Homo sapiens: one gene and its partner. The protein of the gene in region 1 purifies or fractionates together with the protein of each later gene. This does not show direct contact. Each region holds a gene or a part of one and is shown on either strand. Other genes may lie near its edges.

Region 1 (4,108 bases):
TTCCCTGATTGCTCCCCCAATTTACCCTCTGCTCTCTGTTAAGCACCACAAGCACCTAACAATCTGCTGTTCCCTCTTTAGCCATTGTCTTGTCTGTCACAGTCTTCCCATCCGTACAGCGCATGTTCTCAGAGGATGGCGGTGGAACCTTCTAGCACCGGGCAAGTTACAGCTTAAGTGCTTGTGCCTTAAATTGTTTATCAGAAGCTAAGCAAGCCACTTAAAGATGGAAACCTGTCCAGTTTTCTTATTTCTACGTCTAGATGTGTACAGCAGGTTTTGAGAAAGGGCATTGCCAGAATTTTTATTCTTTTTTTTTGAGACAAGTCTCACTCTGTTGTCCAGGCGGGAGTGCAGTGGCGCGACCTCGGCTCACTGCAGCCTCCTCCTCCTGGGTTCCAGTGATTCTCCTGCCTCAACCTCCCAAGTAGCTGAGATTACAGGTGTGTGCCATCATGCCCGGCAAATTTTTGTATTTTTAGTAGAGACGGGGTTTCACCATGTTGCCGGGCTGGTCTCGAACTCCTGACCTCAAGTGATCCACCCGCCTCCGCCAATCAACCAGTATTTTTCTTGTTAGTGGCAGCATTTTCCCCCTGCCGGCTCTGTTCCCGCCACACTGGTCTGCTTGCTGTTCTTTGGCGATGACCAGTCACTCCTGCCCTAGGGCCTTTGCACTGGCTATTCCTTGTGCTAGGAAAATGTTTATTCTAGATCTTTCCTTGGCTGATCCTTTTATCAAAAATCAATCATTCAGCTCTCTAGTCAAATGTCCCCTCTGCCAACAGGCCTTCCGTGACCACTTTATCTAAATTTGCCCCCTCTCAATCTTTTTGTTCCCCATAGTCCAATTAATTAATTTGTCATGGTCCTCATCATTATCTGAAATTCTCTTACATGGTTGTTTATTTGTCATCCCCTTTAGAGTATAAGCTCCAGGAACTTTGATTATTCACCATCATTTTGGCAACTTGCATAGCCTCTGGCACATAGAGAGGTGCCAATATTTGTTAAATATTTGTGAACTAAATAAATGCGCTAATTAAGCCTCTTACCAAGGGCCTGGCAGACCCCATGCTAAGCACTCCAGAAAACATGATCGTGTTAATTCCTGGCAACATCCTCTGACGGTAGATATTAGTGGTTCTGTTTTCCAGACCAAGACACAGGCTCAGAGTATTTAAATGACTTGGCCAAGGTCCTGTGGCTTAGAGGCACTAGGACCCATATTTGCACCAGGTCTGCTGGATGGCAGAGGCCAGTCTCTGAACCACGGGCATCACTGCTTTGTGCCCTGTGCCCTGTGCCAGTCACAGAGGGGACATACAATATCTGCAGGAGGGCAGGGTGTTTGCTATCGGATCTCAAATAATAAAGTCAGGGTGATCTTTCTGAAACTCAGATCTGATCTTGTCACACCCCTGTTTAAGATAAATCAGAGGCAGTTAGGATGGAGCCTCTCTGCGTCCACCCCTCGGCTCCTCGGACCGCAGTCTGCAGCACCCTTCTTCCCTCCCTCTCGGCTCCCCTTCAAAGGCACTGTGCTCCCGCCTGCTACAGGGTTTGGCACAAGGGATCAGGCTATGCGGAGTTCTGTCTTGTTGTCTTGGAAACTGCCGCTCTTCCTGCGTGGCTCCAGGGAGGCTCCCTGCCCAAGTGGCAGACTCTCGCAGTGTGACACCGTCACTCTGTAGTCCTCCTGCTGCCTGTTCCTTTCATTGCTTTGCGAGACCCCTTGATGACTGTGTTTGTCTCCTAGGCTATGAGTTTGCTCACTGCTGTCTCCCCCTGAGCCCAGCACAGGCCCTGAAATAGAATGAGGCGCTCAGAGAAATTAACATTGCATGAACGAGTGAACGAATGAATGAATGAACTCTGACTGTGAGCTTTCCTGCCTGCCCTGGGCCACTGACATCTAGGGGGCAGACTCTGGGTCACTGCCTGGAGCCACAGAGCCCAGGCCCGTCCTCCAAGACCCCTGGGACACCCTCTTTCCTGCGGGCCAAGTCCTCAGAGCTGGCCCCACCACTTGCCCGCACACTCACATCCAGGTAGTTCTCCAGGGGCTGTTCATCTACCAGGGTGGGAGCCTTCCACTGGGGGAAGTACTTTCTGGCTGGGTTGAGGTTGTGCTTCTTCAGGAAGTCCTTCAGCAGGCCACGCTCGGACAGGGTGCGCCTCAAGGACTTCTTTCTGATGAGGGGGACCCTGTGGTTTGGAGAAGGAAGAGGAATTAGGCAAGGATTCTGCTGACCGGGTGCTGTGGCAGCCCCAGAAGGGAAGGGAAGCTGGTCTAAGAGAGGAAGAAGGAAGGAAAGGAGACGCCCCCTCTTCTGCCCAACAATGCAAAGAAGTTAAGTTGACTAGTGCTGGAGCTGGGAGCCAAACCCAGGCTGGACTCTTAACCAGCTGATCTAAGAGAGGAAGATGGAAGGAAGGGAGAAGCTCCCACTTCTGCCCCATAATGCAAAGAAGTTAAGCTGACTAGGGCTGGAGCTGGGAACCACAGTCAGGCTGGGCCCGAGTTTTAACCATGTCTGCAGGGCTGCCTCCCAAAAAGGCAGAGAGAGAGGCGGAAAAGGGGGATGGAGACAGCTGAATAGAGAGGGAGAAAAAAGGGAAGAAGGAAGACACGGGAGGAAAGAAAGGTGATGTGGGAGGCAGCGTCTTCACACCCACACCACCCGGACTCACTTGTACATGATGCACTCAGAGAGTGCCACCAGACCCAGCAGCAGCAGCCACTTCATGGTTCTTCCCGGGTCCCAACTCGAGGGAGAAGGCAAGACGGGAGGAAGGTGCAGAGCAGCAGCATGAGCTGCCCCTTATATACAAGTTGGGTCCCGCCTTATCGGCCTCTGAAAGTCACCGGTTCCCCTGATCCCAAACAGAGAAGCTCCTGATAAGATTGTGGCTGCCCTAAGCCACATTCTGAGATCTTTCCAGCTGAGGCACTTTCCACTATAACTTTGCACCATGGGGAGGGGGGAGGGTGCCATGGGGATGGACCCGCAGAGAGAGAGAGGAGCAATGACCGGGAGGCTTTTTTCTTTCTTTTTTCTTTTCTTTTTTTTTCTTTCTTTTTCTTTCTAAGCAATGACCTGGAAGCTTATTTGTTTTCTTTTCCTTTGTTTCCTTTCTTTTCTTTCCTTTCTTTCCTTCTTTCTCTTTCTCTCTTTCCTTCCTTCCTTCCCTCCTTCCTTCCTTTCCTTTCTTTCCTTACTTTCCTGACGGAGTTTTGCTCTGTCGCGCCGCCAGAGGCTTATTTCTGAAGCATTGACAAGGGCCTACGTTAAAACTTTACCAGCTGAGCATTTTGACAAAGTTGGTTAAAAGTGCGTTTAACACAGCATTGGAGAGATGTGAAGGAGCCCCAGGTGGCCTGATTTGTCCCAGAGGGCATGCAGCTGGGGTTCTTAGAGAGCAGCCCCCGACTCAGTCATAGGTGGTACTGGTTGTGGTCACTGCTTATTCACAGCACATTGGGGGGTCAGTCGTTTGGGTCTCAGGACACAATTCCCCACATAAGTGTCATTGTGTGGGGTTGTTGGGCGTCTGACTAGCCTATGGGCCTTGTGGCTTGCTTTTGGTGCAACTGGGCTGAGTCTGGGAAGGAGATGTGCACAGTACACGGGGGAGGAGGGAGACAGCACCGGGAGAATGCTGCCTTCCCTTCCTGGAGGAGGCAAACTTCAGACAGGCCAGGTATGTCTTTGGAATCTGTGTCCCTCCCTTTCTGCACCCCTTCTCTTTCTTTTGCTCCTTTCCCACCCTCTCCACCTTTGAGATCCCACCTGGGTCTGATTTCTCCAGGTGCTCCAGGCTTACAACTGGGTTGAAATCAGCTACAATGGAGTGAAGCAATCTGGGCAAACAATTCATACTCATGGGTGAGTGACTTAGAAAGAGGATGCTTGGCCGGGCGCCGTGGCTCACGCTTGTAATCCCAGTACTTTGGGAGGGTGAGGCAGGTGAATCACCTGAGGTTAGGAGTTCAAGACCAGCCTGGCCAACATAGTGAAACCCCGTCTCTACTAAAAGTAGAAAAGTTAGCTGGGCATGGTGGTGGGCGCCTGTAATCCCAGCTACTGGGGAGGCTGAGGCAGGA
Region 2 (3,500 bases), on another chromosome or scaffold:
ACTACAGGCATGTGGCATTGCATGTGGCTGAAAACATTTGTTAATGCTGACCTTTGCAAAATACTGCCAACAAACATGTAAATAAAATTTACAAATGAGTTTCAAACTTCTGAACCAAATTAATTCAATCTTTAATACCAACATTATTTATGAAGTACACAGAAAAAAACTCATTTTGTTTTCAATTTTTTTTTTTTTTTTGAGACAGAGTCACTCTTGTCACCCAGGCTGGAGTACAATGGCATGATCTCAGCTCACTGCAACCTCTGCCTCCCAGATTTAAGCAATTCTCCTGCCTCAGCCTCCCAAGTAGCTGGGATTACAGGTGCCTACCATCACACCTGGCTAATTTTTTGTATTTTTAGTAAAGGGTTTTACCAAGTTGGCCAGGCTGGTCTCGAACTCCTGACCTCACGTGATCTGCCTACCTCAGCCTCCCAAAGTGCTGGGATTACAGGTGTGAGCCACCATTCCCAGCCTAAACTTTTTTTATTAAAAATTTTAGGGCCAGGCATGGTGGTTCATGCCTGTAATCCCAGCACTTTGGAAGGCCAAGGCGGGCAGATTGCTCGAGTCTGTGAGTTCAAGACCAACCTGGACAGCACAGCGAAACCCTATCTCTACAAAAAATACAAGAACTAGCCAGGTGTGGTGGTGTATGCCTGTAGTCCCAGCTACTTGGGAGGCTGAGGTGGGAGGATCATGTGAACCTCGGAGGCAGAGGCTGCAGTGAGCCAAGACTGTGACACTGTACTCCAGCCTAGGCAACATAGTGAGACCCCATCTCAAATAAAAAAAAAATTTAATATGTCCACACTTTTTTGTTTTTTATTTAAAAAATTTTTTTAGAGATAATGTCTTCATATGTCACCCAGTTTGGGGTGCAGTGACACAATCATAGCTTACCGCAGCCTCAAACTCCTGGGCTCAAGTGATCTTCCTGCCTCAGCCTCCTGAGCAGATCAAGATATAAACAGGTAAAAATTGATAAATCTTAACTCTTATTCTTATCTGTATCTTTCCCTATCAGTAATCCCTTCTAGTTTCCGCTGTATCCTTCCAGTGTTTATGCAAACACTAGACAAGCAAGCATAAACATACACACTCTCTCTCTTAATTTCTACATTTTAATATAAGAAGTCTGTGCTTACTTTTTTTTCTGAGACAGAGTTTTGTTCTTGTTGCCCAGGCTGGAGTGTATTGGCGCGATCTTGGCTCACCACAACCTCCACCTCTTGGGTTCAAGCAATTCTCCTGCCTCAGCCTCCCGAGTAGCTAGGATTACAGGCATGTGCCACCACGCCCGGCTAATTTTGTATTTTTAGTAAAGATGGGGTTTCTCCATGTTGGTCAGGCTGGTCTTGAACTCCTGACCTCAGATGATCCACTGGCCTCGGCCTCCCAAAGTGTTGGGATTACAGATGTGAGCCACCGTGCCCAGCCTTTTTCTTTTTTGAGACAGAATCTTGCTCTGTCGCCCAGGCTGGAGTGCAGTGGCATGATCCTGGCTCCACTGCAACCTTCGCCTCCTGGGTTCAACCAATTCTCATGCCTCAGCCTCCCAAGAAGCTGGGATTACAGGCGCACACCACCATTCCTGGCTAATTTTTGTATTTTTGGTAGAGATGGGGTTTCATCATGTTAGCCAGGCTGGTCTCGAGCTCCCAGCCTCAAGCAATCCACCTGTCTCAGCCTCCCAAAGTGCTGGCATTACAGGTGTGAGCCACCGTGCCTGGCCTTACACTTAGATGTTTAACTAAATAAAAATCTAAGTTATGAAAGTACACATAAACTGATGTGGTGGCTCACACCTGTAATCCCAGCACTTTGGGAGGCCTAGGGAGGAGGATTGCTTGAGCAAGGGTTTGAGACCCTGTCTCTACAAATTATTTTTAAAATTAGCTGGGTGTGGTGGAGCACTCCTGTGGTCCCAGCTACCCAGGAGGGTGAGGCAGGAGGAATCCCTGAGCCCAGGAGATCAAGGCTTTGGTGAGCTATGATCATGCCACTGCACTCTAGTCTGGGTGACAAGCAAGACCCTGTTTAAAAAAAAAAAAAAAAAAAGTAACACATACATACCTGTTCACGATTAAAAAAAAAAGGAAAATATCCTAGAGAAGGATTCAGAAAAATGGTAGGCTCTCTTATGCTACCACACTACTTAAATCCTTTATTCTCCCCAAGGACAGGCCTGTAGAGACACTTTGCTGTGTACTTCCAGATCTTTCTGTATTCATACATGCATGTGTGTGCAAGCAAACACATGTACATGTGTATGCATATAAAGATAAACATGAATATTTTTATTTGCTTACACAAATGGGATCATACCCTATATAAATTTAGATTTAGTTTTTTAATCTAATATTATCTGCCATGTTTATTTTCACAGATGTATCACATTCCTTATATTAACAAATAAGCATTTTTATTGTACAGGTAAGGAAACAGGATAGTAAAAGTAAGCCTTTATAGAAACTATTCACAAACCTACGTATATTTAGTCCTAACTATTCAGTTTGGATATTATAATTCACTACATCAATTTCTGCTTGCATGACCAAGAGAACAGGAGAGAAGAATCTCTCTACCCTACTTCTCAGAGAATTTGAGGCTTCAGATATGCTGCAGGATGCTCCTGATGGATGGGTTTTTAAGTTTTGTTGGTACCCTGAACTATAGGTCCTGAGCTATGAGAGATACACAGACAATGAAACACTGTATCACTTCTCTCCAGGCAGAGCATCTAAGGAGAATATGGAAAAACAAGTCTTAGGTGAACATTTGCAGTGAGCTCTGGTAACTCATTCCACATGCTAGAAGGGATAAACTGGACAATGCTGCCTGTGAGAAAAACACCAACATCCGGGATGTTTCATTCCGTAAATCCTGGGACAACTACAAGAATAATAAAAGCTGAAAACCTTTCCAGATACTTATTTAAAATGATTCATCAGTTTTTAGACATAGTTATTCCCATTTTAACATCTCGAGGCATCTTAAAATTAATGGTGTCTGACAGGTGGCACTTGAGACTTACTTGTCTTTGCCTTAAATAATTTATTTTCTTATGCTTTCCTTTTCATATATGCCCAAGAGGGAATGTGATATAATTTATATCCAGCTAAGATTAAAAGATATTTCAGTAAGTGTAAAATTTTAATCCTCTGATAAAAAAAGTATTGTCATAGTTTAACTGGCAGCAGTTTTTCTCTCCAGTGGCATCTTGGTGTCTCAGATTCAAAGAAACTTTTCTGTAGCAATTAAGCCTATTTAGCATTATGATGCAGTGATATATTTTTACAGAGAATTCCCATTAACCAAATTCAGGAATATGTCTTTCTACCTTCAAAGAACACCTACTGTGCTCCTTAATGTGGGTTTAATGTAGATGAATCGTGATCTCTTTTGCACATGCGTGATTTCTTTCAGTACAGTCTTAACACAGCCCAACTACTTCTAATGGGTAAGAGTTCTCCCTGCTTATAATCAATGAAATG

Evidence for each region. The genes of interacting proteins can lie anywhere in the genome.
Region 2: the proteins of PGA3 (region 1) and RMND1 purify together in Homo sapiens (affinity purification with mass spectrometry; one large-scale study listed by BioGRID and IntAct). This does not show direct contact.

Annotation. Positions count from the first base shown.
Region 1 is NC_000011.10:61,202,207-61,206,314, reverse strand, and holds the start of PGA3 (pepsin A-3 preproprotein), read right to left. Parts: upstream 2,801-4,108; 5' UTR 2,751-2,800; coding exon 2,695-2,750; intron 2,209-2,694; coding exon 2,046-2,208; intron 1-2,045. UniProt on the Homo sapiens protein: Shows particularly broad specificity; although bonds involving phenylalanine and leucine are preferred, many others are also cleaved to some extent.
Region 2 is NC_000006.12:151,417,627-151,421,126, forward strand, and holds part of RMND1 (required for meiotic nuclear division protein 1 homolog), read right to left. Parts: intron 1-3,500. UniProt on the Homo sapiens protein: Required for mitochondrial translation, possibly by coordinating the assembly or maintenance of the mitochondrial ribosome.